Linked DNA regions of Homo sapiens. The protein of the gene in region 2 interacts with the protein of the main gene of each other region in a pairwise test. Each region holds a gene or a part of one and is shown on either strand. Other genes may lie near its edges. The genes, in order: PLXNB1, ARHGEF11, PLEKHG4B and NCK1.

Region 1 (2,784 bases), on a different chromosome or scaffold from region 2:
CAGAGGGTCTGGGCTAGAACCTCAAGGGGGTGAGAGAGGCAGGGCTTCAGTGGAAACCCCAGACCTTGCTGAAGCAGGTAGACCTGGGCTGTCTTCCTACCAAGGAGGCCCCCTTGCTCTACCCTGTTCTGTCCCCATCTGGCACACCTGGCCTGGGGTCCCTGGGCCATGGAGGGGACTCTGCTTCCCACTGTAGTGCCCATCCCATTCTCTACCTCTCAGGTCCCCTTCTCCCCCAGCCCTTCCCTGGGGTCCTGGGCTGCCTCCTGTGGCTCTCTGCACCCCTCGTCTCTCTCACCTTTCATTTGGCCTCTTCCCTAGAACTACTCCGGAGACCTCGGGGCGCGAGTGGCCCTGCATGAACTCTACAAGTACATCAACAAGTACTATGACCAGGTGGGCAGGCCCTGGACCCCGACTGGGAGGCTGACCCAAGGCCTCCCAGGAGACTTAAGGGGCTCTGACCCTGTGACTCACGTTGGGGGCTTTGGTCTTCCCCAGGGACAGAGTAGTGGGGGGCCGGGCCCCTTGGTGGCTTGAGAAGTGTTTTCCAGGCGGGCTTCCTGGCATTGGCTGTGCTCTCACCTGTCCCACTGCTCCCCATTCCAGCTCCCCAGCAGGACGGCGAGGCACAGTGCTGGTGGTTGTGGGGGCCAAGGGGTCTACCAGGGCCTGGAGATGGTGTGCATTTGCTGAGTTGGCAGCATGTTGGGCACGGCCAACATGCAAGTGCAGGCCTGGCTTGGCTGCATGAGCTGCGAAGAGGAGAGTCCAGGCACAGGGCCAGGGGTGTGAGGGTACACTGGAGCTGGTGAAGCTTTTTGGAGGATCCCTGGGCTGTGCCTGAAGAGCTGAGCACCTGCCAGTCAACCTGCTGGATGCCTGGTGGAATAGTCCACTTAGATGTTTGTGTGGCACCAGTGACATGGCTATTGCTGCTCAGAGATGAGGAACCTGTCTCATGGCCCACAGCCTTCCTCGGCATGGTGTGGGCCATGGCACGGGGCTTGGGGGAGGCAGGGTGTGATGCAGGCATGTCCCCTTGTGGAGACATAGTGGGCAGTAGCTGTTTTCCCAAGTGCTGCTGCCCTCCGGTTCCTACCGGTTCCCTTGGTGGCAGCCCCAAATTCGTGGTTCGTGTTTGATCAGTGTCTGTTTTCCCACCACGTGTCTGGTCATTCTTGGGTCTCTGCCCCTTGTCTGGCACCGGGCAGACAGGAACTTGGGAAATACTGTTGGCTGGCGGGTGGGTTAGCCAGGATGGCTGCAGCAGGGCTTCTGAGGAGCTCGCTACTGAGTCAGGTCCTTCATTTCCTACCTTATTCATCCTGGAACCCCGCGGTGACTTTGATGTTATTACCCCTCCCGCCAGCGAGGCCCTGAGGTCCCAGAAAGTACGTGAAGTGACCGGCTGGGTTTCTTGGCCTCCTACCCCACTCATGCCACAGCGTCTTAGGAGGGCTGTTGAATTTTGCAGCAAACACGTTGGCCAAAGAAGTCTCCCCTGATGGCATTGGTCTCTGTTTCAGATCATCACTGCCCTGGAGGAGGATGGCACGGCCCAGAAGATGCAGCTGGGCTATCGGCTCCAGCAGATTGCAGCTGCTGTGGAAAACAAGGTCACAGATCTATAGGAACCCAGGAGCCACGGCCTGCTGTTGCTTCAGCCTGGCCTGGGCAGCCCTGGAAGCTCGGAGGAGAGGCCACCTTCTTAGGTGCCTGTAGTGACTGACAAGCAGAGTTAGTGGAAGGTGACTCCCAGTCTCCTGGTGGCTCTGGCCTCGGCCCTGCTGGATCCACCTCCTAGACCCGGGGCCTCAAGGCTCATGGGGTAGTACCCAGCCTGCTCCCCGAGTCCAGCGACCCTGTGACACCGGTCTGCAGGGAGTTGGGGACTAAGGGCTTCCAGAGAGTGGCTGGAAGAGACTCCAGGCCCCTGGGGAGACTGTACTGTTCCTGAACACTGGCCTTGGCCACACTGGGATTCGGAGAGGAAGGAGGAGAGCCCCATGCTTCCTGTCTGCCTCCTCCACCATCCCTGACCTCAGTTGAGCTGCCTCTGGCCTTGTTGCTGCTGCCACATCCTAGGTCTAAGAGTTGAACGCCTCTCCTAGGCCACTACAAACTGACCCCTCAGCAGGGCTGGCTGCCACAGGGCTGCCCTGCCTCATAGGTAGCCATGGTGAGGGCTATCTGCTGCAGGGGGGTCTTGGGGAGAGTGGTGACTCCATTGACCCAGCTTTTCATTAAAGGATAACACACTGCACTGAGTCTGATGTGTGAGCCCGGCCTAGCCCCTGGCTACTAGGAGGACGGCAGCTATGCCCAGCAGGTACCAGGGGGAGGTGGTATCTATACTCTTGGGGAGTCTCATGGTTCCCCATCATATCCCAGACTGCAGGGCTGGCTGAGGCTCTCCTTGACGCCTGGGCAGGGTCTGGTGGGGTCAAAGCTTCCGTGAAGGAAGAACCCCATCTGGGGCAGGGCGGGTGACCGAGATAGAGGGGTCTACAGTCTCTTCAAGGGGGCCTGCTTTATCTGCAGTTTGCGTATTCTCACTTCTCCACTCATGTTCTATTTATCTTGAAAGGGACTAGGAAAGGATGACATAATTACAGGCAACTCTAGGCAGAGGGGGTCTCGAGGGCCATTTTCCATGGTCCTGTTCCTGGACTTAGGGTTTCTGTGTTGCCTTCCAAATCAGGGCATCCTAGGGCCGGCTCCTAAACTGTCTGCCTCCATGAAGGCCGCCTTATATGGTTCTTCCTGATTTGTACCTGGAGG
Region 2 (6,801 bases):
TTCTTGCACGCCCCCAAAACTTGGGTTCCCATCTTCTCAAATCCTTGCATTTACCAGAAAGAGTTCACCATCCAAATCTTAAAAAGGCAAGTGCACTAATTCTCAAACTCCAAGAGGATGAAAAGGGAAGAAGGGCAGCCATGTAAACCATTCCAATTCCTCACCTTGACACACCTCAGTTCTCCCTTTCCAAGGGTCAAACTGCAGAGAGGCCAACAGAAAGGAGGAAGGAGGTCTGAACTGGCCGTACATCCTTTGTGGCTGTCTGCCTCCTCTTCTCCACTGCCAAGTCAGTTCCCATCTAGGGACTGCTGAACTAATCTAAATGGGACTCTGAGGCAATACAGAGATTAGTGCTTGAGAGAGAGAGATTATATGCATTTTAGGCCACATTCCACAACCAAAAGGAAATTATTATTAGCATGGATAACCGAAGGTGGACTGGGCATGGAGGGAACAATTGCTCCCTTGCAAATATTCTTCCCTATCTCTCCAATAATATTTTTTTCCAGGCCCAGTCCTTTCATTTGCTTGTTCAGTCCTTCAACCACCCATCTATCCAGTTAGGATGTGTGCAGTGCCCACAAAACACACCCCCCACAGCAAGGTTCTCATGGGGAGAAGCGTTGAGGAGGGGTAGGGGAGGGAAGGAAAAGGCAGACACCTTACAAAGTTGTACCAATCATTTGGAGGTAAGAATTGCAACCACACAGTAACATTACCAGTGATAGAGGTGGCTGGGCAGACTCTTGGGGCAAGGGGTGTCATGTGTTCAGACTCTGAGGGCCAGTGCTGCTGCCCAGCAGGCCTACGAGCCCAAAACAATTTCTTCTGGCTCCAGGCAGAGGGAAGGCCCATTTTGCAGAGTCAAGCTTATTAAGAACAGCTTGGAAGATTAAACCTAGAGCATCAGCCGGTTGGCAGGTCTCAATTCAAACTCTAAGCTTGGAGGAGAGGAAATTCTAATGTGATCTATGCATTTTGGGACCATGTCAGCTACTGGTAAAAATCCAGACTTGCATGGGTGCAAAGGATGTTTCTGTCCCATCATTCAGGCCAAGAACATCCTCTTCATTTCTAGAAATGGGATCCACCCCGTCACCAAGCCCCACCATTCCATACCAACCAGCCTGGTGGAGGCCCACGCCTCTGCCAGGGCCCTTCTCCCAGCAGCTCCAACACCTAAAGCCAGTCCCCCTAGTGCAACCCTAGGAGCTCACAAGACTGGCTTGCCCCCACCTGAGACTAGCAAGTTGGGTGGACTCAAATTCAGCCTCTACCCTGGCAAAAGTCAAAAGCCACTGGAAGCACATCCTCCTCCTTTCCCTCTCCTGGCTTCACTGTTTATTGCTTATATTCAAAAGACGCTGAATCAAGAGCTATGTTTTTGCACATAACCACATAGGCTGACAGTCCCCAGAGACTAATGCTCCTAGCCCACCAATTCCCATAGCCCACCCAGACCCCTATTTTCAACCATTTATTAAAATGCAACACCACCCCTCCCAGTCTTTCCTTTAGTCAATGTTGAAAAATCAAATTATTAGCAAACCTACCTGTCTATACTCTGGGGTAACCTTACACTCATGGTTTCTCGGTGTCTCCACGGTTCCAGAATCCTGTAGCTTTGGTGTCTTGATCAGGATTGAATCGCTTGCAATTTTTGAGCAAGGTGAGAGGAGGGCCTCCCAACTTGAAGATAGAATCCTTTCTCCTCCAGCTCTCAGGACCCTGGTAACTGATGCTCCACTCTACTTCTACCAGTGAACATGATTTCCTTTCTCAGCCCCTCTTCCCCTCCCCCGCTTTAAAAAAAAAGAAAAGAAAAGAAAAAAGAAAAAAAAAGGAAAAGAGGAAAAACTACGACCTTCTCAGAAACCAAAAACCCAGCCACGAATCTCTTCAAGGTTAGCACTATGGCCAAAAAAAAATGAATCACAGAAAAATGTGCCTTCAAAATATCACTGTTAACTGCAAAGTACAGATAAAACCATCCTTTAAATCCAGCTTTCTCAGCTGTCCTTCTGTTGGCAAGAGACCCTCTAGCTCAAAGGGGGAAAGTAATTTTCTAGTCTCCAATGCTTAATATGACAACAGCAAATATCTTTGAGGAAAGGAAAAAAAAAAGGATTAATAAATCCGAAATGGCACTTGGAAAAATTCTTTCGGCTGATTTGTACAGTAAAATAATAAATAAAACCATACAATAGTATGTACACAACAGCACTCCTTCCAAGTCCAGTGCAACCCTGGGAACCAAAATTTATGGACTTCCTTAAAAAAAAAAAAGCTTTTACATTAAATGTTTTGAAATTCTTAAATGAGCCAATTGCACCAAAAAAAAAAATAAAATAAAAATCAAAGAACACCTGAAATGCAATGCTTTTTACCTTTAAGATGGTAGTAATGATAACAAACCAGAGATAATCTCTGAAAATATTCTCTCCTTTTCTTTTTCCTTTAAACTTGCAGGTTCCTCCACCTACCCCAGCCTGATTCTCAGACCCAGCCTACGTTCGGCCTTTTTCTGAAAGACAATTTCCTGAGTTAGTTCTGCTGTTGGGCTCCTCCACATCCAGGCTCCGAAATTTTCTCTTGCCTCAGCCTCCATGAAACGGAGATTTCGCTTCCTCCCGTTCCCCCTTCTCTCTCCCTCTCTCTCGCCCGGCCAGAAAGACGGCTCCCTTATTATTCGTTCGGATTATTATTGTGGATTTGAGTTCGAGGTGGGTTTTTCTTCCACACCAGACTCCTGGAAAATCCGATCGCCTGTCTCCTCTCGGCCTCTCCTTGCCTCCCTTTCCGCCCCTCGCCTAATCTCGCAGGCAGGAGCCCGCAGTGCCTCGCGCAGGACGCCCGGCCGGGCCTCGGGCTCCCGGCGCCGCTCGCCCCGCGCCCGACCGCCGTGTTCCGGCCTTCGCGGCCGCTCGGGACGCCAGGCTCGGCGCACAGGGAAGGCTGCGGCGGCTGCGGCAGGCCGGCACGAGCGGGCGTCCGACTGCCGGCGTCGCGGCCGCGCTCGCCTCCTTCCGGGCCCCTTCCCCCTCGGTTCGCCGCTCGCTCGGGCGCAGGCCCGGCCGGCCGCCCCCCTTCCCTCCCTCCTTCCCTGCGAGCCTTTCTCCTTCCCTCGCTCCCGCGGGGCGGGGCCGCAGGCTCCTCCTCCTCGCTGCGCTGCCCGCCGCCCGCCGGCCTTTCCCCTCACGCCGCGGCGGCCGGGGGCGGGGGCGGGAAGCTGACCGCCTTTCCCTGCCTCGGTTCCCGCGGCCGCGACTCCCGCCGACCGGCCCGCCCCTGTCCCGGCCTCCCTGCGCGCCCTGCCCCCCACAACCCTTTGCCGTCGCTCCTCGGCCGGTCCCCTCTGCGGCCCCTCAGTCGCCGGCCCTGCCCCTCGGCGCGGCCTAGCGGGTTCCCATCTCAGCCGGATCCCCGGCCCGGCCCGCGGGCGACCCCGGCCCTGACCCCGCCAGGCACCGCGCGCCGTCCCCGCCGCCGCCACCGCCACCGCCACCCCTGCCGCCTTTTCGCCGCTTTTCCTCGGCTGCTTTTCCCCCTTTTATTGACTTCTGCTCGGGAGCCGACCTTTGTTTCCTACCCCCTGCCCGCCCAGCCACCGTGCCCGCGCCCCGTGCCCCTGCCCACGGGTGCAGGTTTACCTCTTTGCGTCCACCGGCATTACCCCGGCGCCCGCAGCTGCGGCTCACCCTCTCTCCACCTCTCTTCTGATCTTATTTTTCAAACATTTGTTGCGGCCTCCTTCGTGGTGTCAGTTCTTTTAACTGTTTCCTCCCGTTTCTGTGGTCCTTCCCACTTCTAATACCACCGACTTAGGGGGAAGACCCTTCGCTGTTTCCTCTCGGGTTGGGTTGGGCATCTTAATAGCAGGCTGTGTGAAGTGTCTTTGAACTCTATGGAAGAGCCTTTCCAGAGCAATTCTATTTTCATAACCCCCTCTCATAGAATCACAGTTTCTAAATCTTTACAAGTAACGTGACATTTGTCAGAAGGTGCCGAGCGTTATGATTAAAAATCATTAAGGCCGAGGCGGGGCCTGAGGTCAGGAGTTCGAGACCATCCTGGGCCAACATGGTGAAACCCCCCCCCTCTACTAAAAATACAAAACTAGCCGTACGTGGTGGCGCGTGCCTGTAATCCCAGCTACTCGGTAGGCTAGGGCACGAGAATCGCTTGAACCCGGGAGGCGGAGCTTGCAGTGAGCCGAGATTGCGCCACTGCACTCCAGTCTGGGCAACAGAGCGAGACTCCGTCTCAAAAAACTAATAATAATAAAATTTTTTTTAAAAAATTATTAAAATAAAAAAACTCTCACTAGGATTGGGGAGTGGACTTTGCCTTCTTGCCTAGGTAAATGCCATTGTAAAATACTCTGCAGGCAGTGGGGTGTTTGCATAAGTTCTCTCCTTTCACACTACCTGGATTGTTCTGGGAGGGGGTGGATATGTATATGTAAATTATCTATACACATTCGTGAGCTCTGGAGTGACCTCACCAGTGTTAGAAGTGGTAGATATGCAAATTGCAAGAGGAAAAAGAAACGAATAAGCATCAGTTGAAGACCTACTATGAACCAGGAACTTTCCCTTTAATGTATATCAGGTATAGGTTGGCAAATAAAAGAACCTGCTTCCTTCACCCTGTCTCCACCAACCCCTAGGCCAGAACTCCCCAAAACAGGTGATCTGCCCAGCATTTGAAGCACAGTCTAGATTGTTGCTGACTTAATTGTGTCTTTCTTTCCCATACTACCCGCAAAAATGATGCTCTCAAATGTGGACACTGCTCTGTGGTGACAGACCACTGGTTGCCACACATTTTAAAATAATGTTTTCTTGGCCAGGTGCGGTGGCTCACGCCTGTAATCCCAGCACTTTGGGAGACCGAGGCGAGTGGATCACCTCAAGTCAGAAGTTCGAGACCAGCCTGGCCAACATGGTGAAACCCCGTCTCTACTAAAAATACAAAAAATTAGCTGGGTATGGTGGGGAGCGCCTGTAATCCTAGCTACTCCGGAGGTTGAGGCAGGAGAATCGCTTGAACCCGGGAGGCAGAGGTTGCAATCAGCCAAGATTGCGCCACTGCACACCAGCCTGGGTGACGAGTGAAACTCCATCTCAAAATGATAATAATAATGATAATGTGTTCTTAATATATGTAATATTTTTAAAGCAAGTATTTACATATATTTTATTACATATCTTATACAACATTGCCTAGTGTAGAAATATTAAAAGGTTGAAATTTAAAAATGAACATTTTTTAAATCATGCTTTTTGGTGAAAGTTAATTGCTGTCATAACTGGAAAAGATGCTTGCCAAAGATAGGTAGATTCAAACAGAAGAAGTATGCCCTTGATTGCATTTATTAAATCATGATACTTATTTTCCAATCCCATTCATCAACAATGCAAAGACTTCTAATTGAAATTCAACTAGTAAATTTATATCTTAAGTCAATCCTTCTTGAATGATTGGAAGGTGTTACATTTTTATATTCTTAACAAATGGGTTCCAGCCATTAAGAAATTTCATTTAACTTTAAAAAATAGGTTTTCAAATTCTGTTTCCTAATTTTTCAGTGTGCAAAGGTTTTGATAGGTGAAACCATTGTTTTTGGTAATTAAAAAAATCACAATATTGGAACCATTTCCAGTCATCCGTCTTCAAAATACTTTTTCCTAAAGTATGTGTTTCTTTAGAAAAGCAGTGACTTCCTCGCTCGTAGATAGACTGTCATCTTAACCTTGAAGGGACAGCTTGAAGGGACAGATTAAGCGGTGTTTTTGTTGTTTGTTTTTGTTTTTGCAAGTAAGTGCTAGGTAGCATACTCTTGACAGCCATTTCTCATCATAGAACACTGAAATAAAACTGTGCATCTCCTCCATGTTCAGTATTTCATTTTAGGCTTTCCCCAGGAGATTGTTAATCTGCACAGCAAAGATTTTCATGGTCATTCTCTGTCATTACAAAGAATTGTAAAGTTTGTAGCAGTTAACAGGCTTGTTTTTGTCTGGTGGGTGGCGTACATCATGAAGAAAATGAACGTCAATGGTGATGTTACCTCTGGTTCTTGGAACCTCCTCATATACTGTGTGTGACAGATGACTTCTGACATAGTGACTGAGTGAGAATGCCATGTCATTAGTGTTAGTAAAACCTAATTATTTTTGCTATAATTAAATACTATTATGAGTGCATTCTTTTTTTTTTTTTTTTTTTTTTTTTGAGACGGAGTCTCGCTCTGTCGCCGAGACTGGAGTGCAGTGGCACAATCTTGGCTCACTGCAAGCTCCGCCTCCCAGGTTCACACCATTCTCTTGCCTCAGCCTCCCGAGTAGCTGGGACTACAGGCGCCCGCCACCACGCCCGGCTAATTTTTTGTATTTTTAGTAGAGATGGGGTTTCACTGTGTTAGCCATGATGGTCTCGATCTCCTGACCTCGTGATCCACCCGCCTCGGCCATGAGTGCATTCTTAAGTATTTTCCTCAAGCATCTCCTTGAACACTCCACTTTGAAGATTATGAGGGTGGCTTTAGTAAGATAGAGTTCCCTGAAGTTAGTTGGCCATTTAAGTAAACTGCAAGTCTCAGGTTAAAAAACAAAATAGATTAGATTGTGTCCTAGACAGACTGGGTTGTAGGAATCTGGAGGCAGCTGGTGATCAATGGAAAGAGCTAGACTAGACTAGGAGTCCGGAGAACTAGATAACTTTGTGAACTGCCATCTGCAGTTTGTAAGGATTTAATATGAACAAGCCTGGGCTCTGTAAGCTATAGAGTGCTGG
Region 3 (7,019 bases), on a different chromosome or scaffold from region 2:
TGTAGATCATTTTGATGAGTATTTACGTCCTAGCAATGTTGTCTTTCTATCTATGAACATGACATTGGCTTTCCATATATTTGTTTCTTGAACTTCTTCCTCAATATTTTGTAGTTTTTAGCATACAAATCTTTCACTTCCTTGGTTAAACTTATTTCTAGGTATTTAATTCTTTTGGATGCTATTGTAAATAGAATTGCTTTCTTAATTTCCTTTTCATATTGTTCATTGCTGTTGTATAGAAATACAAATACCGATTTTCACATGTTAATCTTGTACCCTGTAACTGTTGAATTTTTGTATTAGCTCTAGTAGCTTTTTGTGTATTCTTTGGAATTTTCTCTATATAGGAACATGTTACCTGTGAATAGAGTTTTACCTCATCCTTTTCAATTTGAAAGTCTTTCATTTATTTATTTTTTGTTGGTTGTCTCTGTTGCTGTCGCTGGAACTTGCAGCAGAGTGTTGACTAGACATGGCAGCAGTGGGCACTTGTCTTCTTCCTGATCTTGGGGAAAATGTTCAGTCTTGCCATTGAGTATGATGTTAGCTGTGGGTTTTTCATAAATACTTTGTATTACTTGAGGAATTTTCTCCCATCCTTGTTTTCCAAGAACTTTTTTTCTGAAAGGGTATTGCATTTTCAGAAGCCCTTTCTGCATCGATTGAGATGATCGTGTGGGTTTTCTCCCTTCGTGCTGCTACTGCAGTGCACGACATTGACTGATTTTCTTATATTGAACCACCCCTGTGTTCTTGGGATAAATCCCACTCGGTCATGGTGAATAGTCCTTTTAACATACTATTCCCTGACTTTCTTTTGAGGCTTTTTGCATCTGTAGTCATAAGGGATATTGGTGTGTAGTTTTTCTTTACTCACAATGTCTTCATCTGGCTTTGGTATCTGAGAAGGGCTGGCCTCCTACCATATGTTAGGAAGCGGTCCCTCCATTCCAGTTTTTAAAAAGAGTTTGTGAAAGAGATCTATCTACTCTTGTGACTTCTAAGCATGGACACATTTCCTGGCCCAGTCCTGGTTCCTCCTCCCCTCTGTCCACACACTTAGTTCCACCTGTCTAGACACAACTGTGTGGTAGATGGTTCTAGAACCACATCTCTAACCCAACCGCTACTCCAAGCACCAAACTCATACAGCAGTCAGTCCACTCAGTATGTTCAATAGGCATCTCAATCTTAATATGGCATTTCCCCCCAGACATGCTTCTCCAGTCTCTCCCATCTCAGTCAGTGGAAACACCTTCCACCTGCTGGTCAGGCCCCAAATCCTTGAATTGCTGTGTTGGTGCTGACTCGTGACTGCAGACAGCAGAATCCGCTATAGCTAATTTAAGCAGTGAGGATATGTGTGAAGCCATTGGGTAGATCATAGCATCCATGGGAGAGTCAGGAAACCAGAACAGCGAGAAACAACCACAACCCTGGAGAAACACCCAGCCACGCTGTAGGACTGTGTTAGGGAAACCCCCCTCCCCGTCCCCTGCTGCTCAGCACCAACAATGCCAGGGACGGGACCCAGAAGAACCAAACACCTCAACATCCATCTGCTGTGTCCAGCCCGATTCCTGTGTTCCTTCCACATCTCATGTGGTGCATCTCCTGGCAAAACCGGGCACATCTGCACACCAGCTGCAAGGGATCCCGGAGCGTGGCATTATGGCCTCCAGCTTCTGCACACTGGAGGGCACACCCCGGGGGGGGGGGGCGGTGGCAGGGTCACTAATTCAGTGTCTGCCTCTGTGCTCTTTGGGTTCTGTCTCCGCAGCCAGCTTTTCAGCAGTCCTGCCCCCTCTGCCTTTACAGGTCCTGCTTTGACCATTTCCCATGACCTCTGTCACTCCCCTGGAACCCAACCTCATCACTTTCACCAAGATCAGGCATCCACTTCCTGATCTCCTGCCTCCGCCTGCTGAGCTCTCTGAAATGTAAGTCGGAACAGGTCGCTTCCTTTCTAACTCCATCCCCTCTGAGTGTCCCCACTTTCGCTGTGTTTGTGAGCTCACCAGATCTGCCCCCCCCCCACCCCATAGGGCCTTTGCACAGGTGGCTCCTTTGCCTTCAAGTCCCAGGTAGCTTCCTCTCAGTGTCTGCTCAGCCTGCCCCATCAGAGAGGCCTTCCTTGACCGGATTTGTGTTCTGTCCACTGGTTTATTTCCCTCCACTGGAATGTCAGCTTCCCAGAGATGGGGGCTGTGCTGTGACTACCAGTAGTAGTTGATCAGTAAGTACTTTTTGAATAAACCAAGCTATGTTAATAGTCCATGTTTTGGAAAAACTCCCTAGAAAACATCCCTAATTCCATGGATCCATGGCAAAGAAAGAACCAGATCTGTAGAAACGGGCTGGAGAAGCTCACAAAGGACTCCTGGGCTGAGAAAGCCCCACACGGTCCCACTTTCTTTCTGTATAGTGGAGGTGTGGCAGGGGTGAGCTCCTACCACGGGCCCCAAAGTCTCCAGTAAGAGTGAGATTCCGGGCTGCACCCTGACCAGGCGCCACTGGGTCACTGCTGACCGTCCTGGAGGTGCTGAACAGGGATGAAGCCGTTTATTCTGGAGGCATGCCAGCATTCTTGGGTCCTGCTCTGGCAGGAGCTGTGGGGCCACACAGGCTTAGAAAGGTGGCTCCCATCCTGGACAGCACCGTGGGCAGTACTGTCACGAGGACGGGCTGGGAGGAGGGTGTGGCAGGGGTGTTGGGGGCCTCAGGTAGGGGCCAGCACAGAGGGACACCCAGATACCCAGCACAGAGGGCAGGAACAGGTCAGCTCCCTGCCTGGGCTCAGGGATGGGGCTGGAGGTTCTAGGAAGCAGAGCAAGTAAGCAGGACAGGGAACAGTGAGAACACAGGTGTAGATGGAGAATCAAGGCGGGGCGCAGCCAGGGATTCCAGGGAGGAGTAGACAGAAACTCAAGGGAGGGAGGCCTCGAGGGGATCCCAGGGAGGTGTGGACAGGGATTCTAGGAAGGAGTAGACAGAGACTCAAGGAGGCCTCGACGGAGATCCCAGGGAGACTGACTGCCTGCTGCATAGGAGGGAGGCTCCCAGCTGTGTCCCTGAGCTGCATAGGAGGGAGGCTCCCAGCTGTGTCCCTGAGCTTCATCCACTCTGTAACCTGTGACAAAACGGAGCATTATCTGTCAATGAGCACATCTGTGCCGCAGTTTTTGGGATGGTGCCAGGGTAGGGGTGAGGGACAAGTTGAGGGGACAGGTTGAGGTGGGGTCCCTGTGAGGCCCTCCTGGACGGAGTGGACCTTATGAGACACTCCCTAGCTGAATTCCCAGCAGGAAGCTGGTGCCCAGAGCACCCTGGACTAACGGGCGGGAGAGGGACTTTGTTTTGGGAGGCTCTTTGTAGATCAAGGCATTAAAATTGCACCTTTGGGGAAAGCATGTTCCAGAGCACCAGACACCCCGAGGCACCCTGAGTTGTGGGGGGGGAGGGTGATGGAATTTGGGGCCCTCGCTGAAGCCCTTCATTATCCAAGCCAGGCGCGGGGTGGCACGTAGTTCCCACAGCGGCCCCTGGACGGAGGAGAGGGCCTGGGCCGTCCACACCTGCAGAAATCTGGAGCTGGTCCGCCTAGACCAGGGGAAATCGGGGTCCCGTCCGGGTACACTGGCAGAACTCAGGGGTCAGATCCTCTGCCCTGGAGCATTCAGATTTGTGCCTCTACGTTATGGAAACCAGGGGCCCGTCCGGGTGCAACGTGGCATCCACAAAATGGCAGGTCCCCGAGCTCCGGGCTCCGAGAGAACAAAAGCAGAAGCCACTGCCGCCCGCGCTCGGGGAGGAGCCGCCCAGGTGGGCGCGTCCGGGGCTAGGCGGGAGCTGCGCAGCCGGGTCCAGGGGAGACGCCCCGCCCCGGCCGGACCCTCGGAGCCTCCTAGGGGAGACCCCGGCCCCGCCCCTCTCTCGCCCGGATCGGGCGGGGCCCCGGGAACGCGCGCGGCGAAGGCGGCCTCGGCCCAGTGCACAGCGGGACCAGGCAGAGTTCGGGGAAAGCGTCGGAGTTCGGGAGACCAGGGTCCAGCATGGGTTTCAGCACAGCAGACGGCGGGGGCGGCCCAGGCGCCCGGGTAAGAGGGGGCACGGGGACTGCGGCGGGTGGGGGCGCGAGCGGACGCGGGAGTAGGGGCGGGTGGGGGCGCGGGGGTAGGGGCGGGGTGGGGGGGGGCGCCGGAGTAGGGGCGGGTGGGGGCGCGGGGGTAGGGGTGGGGTGGGGGCGCGAGCGGACGCGGGAGTAGGGGCGGGTGGGGGCGCCGGGGTAGGGGCGGGTGGGGGCGCGGGGGTAGGGGCGGGGTGAAGGCGCGAGCATCAAGGCGGGCGGGCGCGGGGACTGGGGTGGGAGGGGGCGCGGGTACCCAGACGTGCTGGGGGTCCTGGCGTGGGTCCTGGGACCTGCCGGCGGCTGCTGCGGGAACGGGAGGGAGCTTCTTCAGGCACCCTTTTCCTTGTAACCTCGTGAATACTCGGGAGAAGAAATAACGCTTTCTGGACAGATTTGCCCTCTCGGTGCCTGAAGGGGAGCCAGGGGAGGGGAGTCTGAAATCTCATCGCCAAAACTGAGAGTTGCTAAGTTACTCTTCAGCTCAAACCGGTGGGACAGAACAGTGATCTGTGGTGGCCCGGAACAAAGAGAATTTTTACTTAAAAATACCAAGATTGACTTTTGTGTTGGAGTGCTAGTTGATTTGAGTAAGAAACATTTGCTAGTAAAACAAGACAGTTATTTCAGCTTTGGTGAAAGAGTGATAAAGCTGTTTTCAGGTTTTTCATGTGAGTTGCAAAAAGTATATTGGGTTTGCCTTTCCCTGTTTCGTGTGAAACTAAAGAGTGGTTGAGGTGAGGTAATTACACTCTACTCCTGTTACCCAACAGCACTTTTGCCTAAAAAGTTTAGTTGGTACGTCTAGGTGTCTAATTAAGAATTGAAACATATAATTTAAAAATTAAGTTAAATGTCATTGAAACGGTGCATAATTGATACTTTTGACTGAGCCTTAGGCAGCTGGGTGGGTCCTGAATCAAGATTCCTGGGAAGGTAGGTTTCTCAGCTTCCCGAAGAGATTTAATGTAAATCTTCATGTAATGTGGACAAAGGTGAGTTTTAGCTTTCAATTTCCCTGAGCCTGCCTCGAATTCACAAAATTCCAGGCTCTCTGGGTCAGAAGGAACTTCGGAGATCTTGAGGAGGCCGCCGTCTCCGAGATTCTGTGATATATTCAGCATTTCCATTCCCTATGGGATCACAACCCACTGGGAAGCAGTGTTTGGTGACCCCCCCACCGAGAAGTGGGTTCATATTCCTGCTTCTGAGGAGATACCAGGTTTTTATTTCACTGTGCGGCATCCGGTGTGCAAATGCAGATGTGGCCTGGGCTGGGAGCACACAGGCTTGACCCCGCAGGCAGCCGGTAGGCCAGGGTGTCAGGTCCCCTGTGTTAGCCGGAGCCTTCTCATCTTTTATCCTGGTAGAGGGGCGCTGCTGGCCTTTCTGGGGGGTGGGTCTAGTCTGAAATCACCTTTGTGGGATCTGTGGCACTGGCTAGCTCTCAAGCTGGCCGGTGGTCTCAAAGGAATTCTTCGTTACTTGTAAAGTAGCCCAGAAATGCTGGGCTGAGGAAGTAATTTGCCCCAAGGCTCCCTGAGACCTGTATTCACAGGTTGTATCATCCAGCCAAACACAGGAGGCCCCAGATCCCCAGATCTCAGAGATTTTTGTGGGAAATCATCTGAGTCTAGCTCAGACACCACTGCCTCCCTCCTTCCAAACAGAATGAGTTTGTCCTCTCTTTGCGTTTGAACAAAAGTCAGGCCATCTAGAGCCTCCTAACTCTCACCTCAGACCTCCAAGGTGGGGCTACTCATTCTATAGATAGTGGAAATTGAGGCTTCAACACCTGCCCAGCATCTCACTGCCAAGAAGCAGCAAAGCTAGGTTTGAGCCAAACTCAAGGTCCTGGTTCTCCTTCTCCCCTCAAGGGCCCTGAAATTTTGGTGCCTCTCCTGGCTGATACAGCATCAGTGCTTCTGTGCCCTGCGGCAGCGGTTCTGTTCCCCACCTGGGTCGCCCCACACCTGGCAGGGCAGGTGCTCCCTGTGGACAGGCCAGTGCTGTTGGGTCCAGCCAAGACCTCAGGTGCCACGTGTGTGGTGAGGGGCTCCCTTCTTCCACCATGCTGTTGAAGACAGAGCCTCAGACTTTGTCTGACCCGAGACCCCAACGTGCTTCTGAGCAGGGGGAGAGTGAAGAGGGGTAGGCTGGGATGAGTGGGTGGCGGGGCTGGAGGGGGTTGAGAGGTGGCAGGTTCCATCCTGAAAGTGTTGGTTCTGGGCCTGGGAATCTGGGCAGGGGGAGAGTGAAGAGGGGTAGGCTGGGATGAGTGGCTGGCGGGGCTGGAGGGGGTTGAGAGGTGGCAGGTTCCATCCTGAAGGTGTTGGTCCTGGGCCTGGGAATCTGGACTCTGGTAAGCAGAAGGCACCCAACATTTCCCTTTACCTTATGGGGGGCTCTCGGGGAGGTGTCTGTGAAGTGGGTAACAGGCTCCAGACCCCGATCTTTTGTCCAAAGAACAGGCCTGGAATCTTGGAAACCAGCACATCCACCCTCCATGAGCTGTTGTCCTTCGGGCCAGTAGCTCAGCCTCTCTGAGCTTCAGTCTGTTCATTGTTTACAGGAATCATCTGTGCCTCACCTACCTCTCCGAGTACCCTAGAGTCAAACTTGAAAAGAGATGTACACAAGCTTTTAACAAGGAAACACAGTTGCATTCTTCACTTATGTTACTGTCCTTTAACAGAATGTTCCTAAATTGAAAGCTGCCTATGTCGTTGTGATATCTGGGACACTTTTCTGGGCCGCAGTTCACACCTGGGCCCAGGTTCTCAAAGACAAAGCTTTTGAATTCTTTTTGATTGATCTTACAAAATTTCCCCTGACAGAAAATCACATTGTGCAAAAGAGATACTTTGTGGTGAATTTGAATTTCTTTTAC
Region 4 (7,051 bases), on a different chromosome or scaffold from region 2:
CACAGGTCTGGTAGTGATGAATTCCTTTAGTTTTTGTTTATCTGGGAATGTCTTATGTTCTCCTTCATTTTTGAAGGACAGTTTTGCTAAATATAGAATTCTTTGTTGGCTCTTTTGCTTTCAGCATCAGATCAGATTCTATCCCCTCCCCAGGGCTTATTACTGCTGCTTATTGTGAGTGGTTGTTGTTTGCTTGTTTAGTGACTTTACTAAACTACTTTTATAAGCTCTATATTCCTGGTCATGTGGGGCCGCTGAAGTCTATTCCATTTGCTTAGTAATCAGCTAGGGTTTTAACAGAGTTTCGTTAAACACCTGGAGCCAAAAGAAAAAACAAACAAACAAAAGAAAACCTCTCCCCATCTTTACAGATGGCTTTATGTTGGGGCAGTTTTTGACCACTTAGTGATGCCATTTATAATTCTGCCTTAGCCTTTGCTTACTGTTTGCTCAAAGCCTGAAGATCAGCCAGGGTGAAAGCTTAGGGTCTTCTTGGGCCTTTCCTGAATGTGCATCCAGCCCTGGCCATGTGCACGTCCTTCTTGATTGGTATACACACCCCTTATTACCCCATGTATATTCTTTCCCATCCCCTTTCTGTCCAGGCTTTTCCATCTGTCTGTTCCTTGTCCCAGTTGTTGTCCCTTGCCCCAGGCTGCTGCATCCATTAAATGATTTTTGCAAAAACCACCCAGGAAGACTCCCTATGCCTGGGAATGATTCAAGTCAGGCAAAGCCAAGGCAAGCCATTGCTCAGGTCCTTCAGGGAGCTGCCAGACAAGTTGAAACCCACAATCACAATTGTTTAAGAATGAGATCTGTATTGCTTCCTCTGGCATTAGGAGTGCAGGTTACTGTCCACACAGCCATCACTGACTTGGGGTGTGGGGGATGGTGGGCAGGCAACTTAGGATGCGATAGCACTCTCTTTACCACAAAGCAGCAACTTCTTTCTTTACCAAGCCTTGCCCTAGATTTTATAAGTTTTTTTTTTTTACTAGATTCCAGAGTTCTGCAAAAGTTGAGTCTGACAGTATTTACCAGCTCATTAATTGCATTCATTGCTTTTTGCAGGGACAGTGCCTTGGAGTTCCTTACTCTACTATTTTTGGTGGTATCACCCCAAATGTAGGGATTTCTCTGAAGGCTATCATTAACCGGAAGTAAGAAAATTAGGAAGGAAGAAGTTGATTTAGGGGTATAGACTGGATTATTTTTATTTGGACATGAGTGTTGGGTTTGAGGTACTGATGGCACAATCTGTGGGTGTCTAGTGACAGTTGGAATTGTAATGCCTGAATTCCAGAAAGGTCTTAGAGCTGCAAAGAGATCTGGGAACCTTCTGCACAGAAATTATAGAAAATGAAAGTGTATGATTTCCTTGGAATAGAGAGGAAGGTCAAGTATGTCATCTTGTGAAACACTTTCAGCTAAGGAATTCTTCATTTATTCATTCAGCATGTTTGCTGACTGCTGAATACATAATTTTGTTTTTCCTTTGTTCCTACTACTGATGTATGTACTGCTAAGCGTTGGAGACAGAAACGAATAAGATCTCGTTTTCTGCCCTCAGGAAGTTCACTCATATTGAGGAAGACAGACAAGTAAACAAGTACAATGCAGTGTTATAATAACAAGGTTAGAGGAGCCTAGACAGAGGTAAACAAGAATATGTAAACAGGTTGGGAGGGAAAATAAGAAATTCGGGGAAGTCAAAGAAGAAGAAAACATAATGGAGAGAGTGGGCTGTGATCTTGGTTGCTGCATATAGAGTTTGAGAAGGCTGAGGACTTTAAAAGTTACTGATTTGACAGTAAGGAGAGATGACATAAGAATGGTATTCATAAGAATGGTTTTAATTGAGTAGTTTTGTTAGAATGTTGGAGACAAAGGATCAGATAATAAAGAGTTGGGAGTGTGAGTGGTGAAAAAGTCGAGGGAAAAGGAAAAACAACCTTTTTTTTTTTTTTTTTTTTTTTTTGAGACAGAGTCTTGCCCTGTCGCCAGGCTGGAGTATAGTGACGTGATCTTGGCTCACTGCAACCTCCGCCTGCCAGGTTCAAACGATTCTCCTGCCTCAGCCTCCTGAGTAGCTGGGACTACAGGTGCACACCACTGCACCCAGCTAATTTTTGTATTTTTAGTAGAGACGGGGTTTCACCATGTTTGGCCAGGATGGTCTCGATCTCTTGAGCTTGTGATCTGCCCGCCTCAGCCTCCCAGAATGCTGGGATTACTGGCATGAGCCACCGTGCCCAGCCGGGAAAGACAACTTTTAAAAGAGTGGTATAGTTTATTCTATAGGAAAATTGGACCAGTTAGAGAAAAAATAAATAAATTACCAAAATGTTACGGTTTAAAAGTTGTAGCAGAGTTAAAGTAACTTCATTTTGGAGTAGAAAAGATATGAGTGTGTTTTTAGACAATTGAAGGGACTAAATAGGAAGGAAAACAAGGATGTCGAGAGTCCCAAGAGAGTCAGGAAAGATAGTATTAAGATCCTAGAAGGATCAGGATTTGGAGACTTGAGTGAAGAACGAGAGTGAGGATAATGAGAGTTTTGAGACAAAAGGAATTTGAGAAGTTTTACCTAGGGAAGCCTCAGTTTTCTAGGTAAAGTAGAGCATAAAATCACACGCTAAGAAATGGGCAGCAGTGAAAATGCCTGACTGAAGTTGATGTAGCGTACATTTGTATTGATAGTACCATTTGGTGATTTTCTCATTTCTTTCAACACATATGTGTTAAGCATTTACTGTGTACTAAGCACTATACAAGATCCTTGGGATTCTATCTGTAAACAAACAAAACTCCCTGTCCTTTTGGAGGTTACATATGACTGGGGTAAGGGGAGAAAAACAAATAATATTTTAAAATAAACATATGAGGTAAATAGAGCTACCTGGGTCTGGGAACCAAGAAAGCAAATGGGAAGATTAGCCAGACATAACTGCAATTTTATATTGCATATCATATTCTGATTTAAGATAGAAATAATTTTATTTTTATACAGCTCATTGTAGAATCTAGCTTGCTTAAACTAAGACAAGAAGAGTATGGGTGTGGTGGAGCCTTTGTGTACTTAGATTGTAGCTATGAAAGAAATCTATATTTACATTTAAGAGGGAATTCATTAATTTAGGACAACTTTATAATTATGTTATATAGTTATTTCAGGGCCTTTGACAAGAGAAAAGATGGTGAACTGTCATATAATAACAAATTAAATATTTATTTGGTTAAGAAAAAGAAAATTTGCATCTTATTTCCAAAAAGATGATTTTTAACTACATAGAAATTTGTTATATTTAAAAGCTTTAAAGATCTATATAGAGTTGAAGATCTCTTTTTAATAATGAATAAGTTCATTCTTTTGGTAATCATTTTTTTATATTCTCCTCTCATGGCCCTTTTTAATTTCAACAGGCATTGGAAAAGTGAAAAGAAAACCTAGTGTGCCAGATTCTGCATCTCCTGCTGATGATAGTTTTGTTGACCCAGGGGAACGTCTCTATGACCTCAACATGCCCGCTTATGTGAAATTTAACTACATGGCTGAGAGAGAGGATGAATTATCATTGATAAAGGGGACAAAGGTGATCGTCATGGAGAAATGCAGTGATGGGTGGTGGCGTGGTAGCTACAATGGACAAGTTGGATGGTTCCCTTCAAACTATGTAACTGAAGAAGGTGACAGTCCTTTGGGTGACCATGTGGGTTCTCTGTCAGAGAAATTAGCAGCAGTCGTCAATAACCTAAATACTGGGCAAGTGTTGCATGTGGTACAGGCTCTTTACCCATTCAGCTCATCTAATGATGAAGAACTTAATTTCGAGAAAGGAGATGTAATGGATGTTATTGAAAAACCTGAAAATGACCCAGAGTGGTGGAAATGCAGGAAGATCAATGGTATGGTTGGTCTAGTACCAAAAAACTATGTTACCGTTATGCAGAATAATCCATTAACTTCAGGTTTGGAACCATCACCTCCACAGTGTGATTACATTAGGCCTTCACTCACTGGAAAGTTTGCTGGCAATCCTTGGTATTATGGCAAAGTCACCAGGCATCAAGCAGAAATGGCATTAAATGAAAGAGGACATGAAGGGGATTTCCTCATTCGTGATAGTGAATCTTCGGTAAGTTGATTTTCGGAGGTAAATACAAATAGAGCTCTGGGTATTTTAAAAAAAAGAGAGAGAGAAATGGAGAGGTTAAGTGGCTTCCCTAAAGTTAACCAGGTAACAAGCTGGGACGTAACATAAGCATAAATGTTCCAAAGCTAAAGTCCGCATTCTTTCTAGCTATCTATTTTGAATAAAAGAGAGCTGTGGCAGTGTTGCTACACACTGAATTATTTCGTCTTGTCTAGTTCTGTTGATTTTGCATTCCTGATATATTTTCTGTTTCTGTTGCATTAAACTAAATGGAGAAAATGGAACACTGGCCTCTTCATTGAGAGTAGAATAATACTATAGATTAAACTGGGAAACATTTAAAAAATTGCTATTGGATGCAATGTGTAAGAAGGTAGTCACTGTAGTCCTTATGACATAGGAAATCCCTGAATTTAAAAAATTGATATTAAGTTTCTTCATAAATTGGTTACTTGGAAATTGGAATGCACTTTTATTATAACCTCAAAAAACCTATTTTAGCAGTGTTTGAAATGCATTTGCAATAAAAGATAAATTATATTGCAATACTAGTAAACAATAAAACTATAAAACCATAAAAGTTGAAAAATAATATGGTTTCATGGTCTCTTTTAGATACTGCTTAGGATATTAGAATTTGATGACACTCATTTTCCTTAAAAATGGCCTTTCTTTTTCCTTGATGAAAGATATCACTACTTTTCCATTTATTAAATCATGGTTAATCTTGGCTTTGCGTGAGTATATTTGTACAAAAGGGAATGTGTAATTGCACAAAATTTTGAAAGAAAATGTGTGGAAGTGGGGTGTGGTGGGGAGAGAGATTAATTGAACTTCCTGATGTGAAGTTCAGGAAAATGGGGCCTGTGCCTAATCCCTCAGAAAAGCAGTTGGTTGGCAGTAGGGAAGAGTGATGACATCCATTTTCTGTTAGTTGCCTGATCTGGCTCACTGTTTGAAACTTTGGGAGTAACTGTAGAAAAAGAGGCTTTGGGGGTTGATATAGACTGTAACAACAACAACAAAACTAATTAAAAAGAAGATAGCTTGAATGCAGAATTGTATGTATTTTCTTGTGGGTAATTGAGTGTAGATATTAGACAAAATGCAATATATACCATTATTTTTAGCAGTATACTTTTTAAGGTTAGAGGTCTCAAGTAGGCATATTTTGTTTAGCCTTCACAGTGTTTTTTAAACATTTAAATTCATTGCCGATATTTAAATATTAGGATATTTATTATAAAAATTCAGACTTTAGACCATTTAAAATTGGAAGAACTACCAACATTGAGACCCGGTTCCTGCAAGGCAACAATCACAGCTGAGAAGTCACCACTTGTTTAGATTGGTGATACACTGTCATTTCCTCTGCCCATCTACCTTTCCACTCTGACACTTATTTACATTATTCTTTTGGCTCTTGTAGGCATTTGAGTTTGTAGCCTCTCCTTAAAGTTTAGATTAATTCTCATTTGTGTATTCTTCATTTTTGGGAATTCAGCATGTTATCTCTAAGACAGCTACTGTTAGCTACACATTGAAAAGGGGTTGGGTGGGTATCTTAGACTTTCTCATGTGTTTCTCTGACTGGAGAGAAGATAGCTCTTGTTCTTCAAATATTTAACTAAAGGATTTGCTGTGGGTGTCTGCTGTTGGAGCCGTGGGTGTTAAGAGACTTTTGATTATGCAGGTTTGAATCCTGGCTCTGTTGTTAACTAGATGGATGATATTGGCCAAGTTATTAATAGCTTCTTTGAGACTCAGTTTTCACATGTGTAAAAAGGGTTTGTTTTGAAGAGTAAAGGAGATAATCTATGTAAATAATTTACCATGGTGCCTAGGACTTAGTAAGTGCTTAGATTTTAGCTTTTAGTTTAATATAAAAATACTGATAGAGGGCTTTCAAAATGTTTACTATATGTATCTTTTTTTTCTCTTTTAGCCAAATGATTTCTCAGTATCACTAAAAGCACAAGGGAAAAACAAGCATTTTAAAGTCCAACTAAAAGAGACTGTCTACTGCATTGGGCAGCGTAAATTCAGCACCATGGAAGAACTTGTAGAACATTACAAAAAGGCACCAATTTTTACAAGTGAACAAGGAGAAAAATTATATCTTGTCAAGCATTTATCATGATACTGCTGACCAGAAGTGACTGCTGTGTAGCTGTAATTTGTCATGTAATTGAAGACTGAGAAAATGTTGGGTCCAGTCGTGCTTGATTGGAAATTGTTGTTTCTAAATCTATATGAGAATTGACAATAAGTATTTTTATTATAACTCAGCCCATACATATATACTATGTATGCAGTGCATCTGCATAGAACAGTTCCTTATCCTTGGCCTTCTGTTTTATTGTTTTTTTCTTTGCTGTTTTCCCTTTGCTTCTAATATTACAGTTTTGTATTTTGTAAACAAAAATCAAATAATGCATATCAGAATCTTTATATGGAAGAAATCCTTTATTGCCTTTCCTTTGTTTCCTTGTAAAGGCACCCTGTTCTGTTATGGTTTTTCATTATATAAAATTATTATATCTATATATGACATATGCTAAAATTTCTTGGAGAGTGTTAATCTTTTCTGTGACTAAATAGCAATAATAAGTGGAAAATTAGAAATTATTTCCAGGTATTATATTTGTCACAGGCCATTGTAAATACCAAGTATATTGTGTCTGCCATAATTTTTAAAAATACATTCATTGTCTTCAGTCATACAGCAAGACACATGAGACATAGATTAGAAAACATGTTGTACAATTTTAATTTACAACTGTTGGAAATAAAAATCACTTAATTTTTTTCCAGTGCTTCTCCCTCATCTGGTTATTCAAGAAAACAAAACAGTCTCTGAGATATTTAGCTTTTCAAACTGTAAATAGATGCTC

The links.
Region 1: the proteins of ARHGEF11 (region 2) and PLXNB1 interact in a two-hybrid assay, tested with the Homo sapiens proteins (2 studies listed by BioGRID).
Region 3: the proteins of ARHGEF11 (region 2) and PLEKHG4B interact in binary tests that used the Homo sapiens proteins (3 or more experiments, as listed by UniProt).
Region 4: the proteins of ARHGEF11 (region 2) and NCK1 interact in binary tests that used the Homo sapiens proteins (3 or more experiments, as listed by UniProt).

What each region holds. Positions count from the first base shown.
Region 1 is NC_000003.12:48,403,336-48,406,119, reverse strand, and holds the end of PLXNB1 (plexin-B1 precursor), read left to right. Parts: intron 1-321; coding exon 322-396; exon of another isoform or gene 397-397; intron 398-1,529; coding exon 1,530-1,634; 3' UTR 1,635-2,266; downstream 2,267-2,784. UniProt on the Homo sapiens protein: Receptor for SEMA4D. Plays a role in GABAergic synapse development. Mediates SEMA4A- and SEMA4D-dependent inhibitory synapse development. Plays a role in RHOA activation and subsequent changes of the actin cytoskeleton.
Region 2 is NC_000001.11:157,042,743-157,049,543, forward strand, and holds the start of ARHGEF11 (rho guanine nucleotide exchange factor 11), read right to left. Parts: upstream 3,001-6,801; 5' UTR 1,589-3,000; coding exon 1,557-1,588; intron 318-1,556; exon of another isoform or gene 165-317; intron 1-164. UniProt on the Homo sapiens protein: May play a role in the regulation of RhoA GTPase by guanine nucleotide-binding alpha-12 (GNA12) and alpha-13 (GNA13). Acts as guanine nucleotide exchange factor (GEF) for RhoA GTPase and may act as GTPase-activating protein (GAP) for GNA12 and GNA13.
Region 3 is NC_000005.10:88,177-95,195, forward strand, and holds the start of PLEKHG4B (pleckstrin homology domain-containing family G member 4B), read left to right. Parts: upstream 1-3,991; 5' UTR 3,992-4,055; coding exon 4,056-4,100; intron 4,101-7,019. UniProt on the Homo sapiens protein: Guanine nucleotide exchange factor (GEF) which specifically activates small GTPase CDC42 by exchanging bound GDP for free GTP.
Region 4 is NC_000003.12:136,942,157-136,949,207, forward strand, and holds part of NCK1 (SH2/SH3 adapter protein NCK1), read left to right. Parts: intron 1-3,426; coding exon 3,427-4,139; exon of another isoform or gene 4,140-4,175; intron 4,176-6,102; coding exon 6,103-6,297; 3' UTR 6,298-7,051. UniProt on the Homo sapiens protein: Adapter protein which associates with tyrosine-phosphorylated growth factor receptors, such as KDR and PDGFRB, or their cellular substrates. Maintains low levels of EIF2S1 phosphorylation by promoting its dephosphorylation by PP1.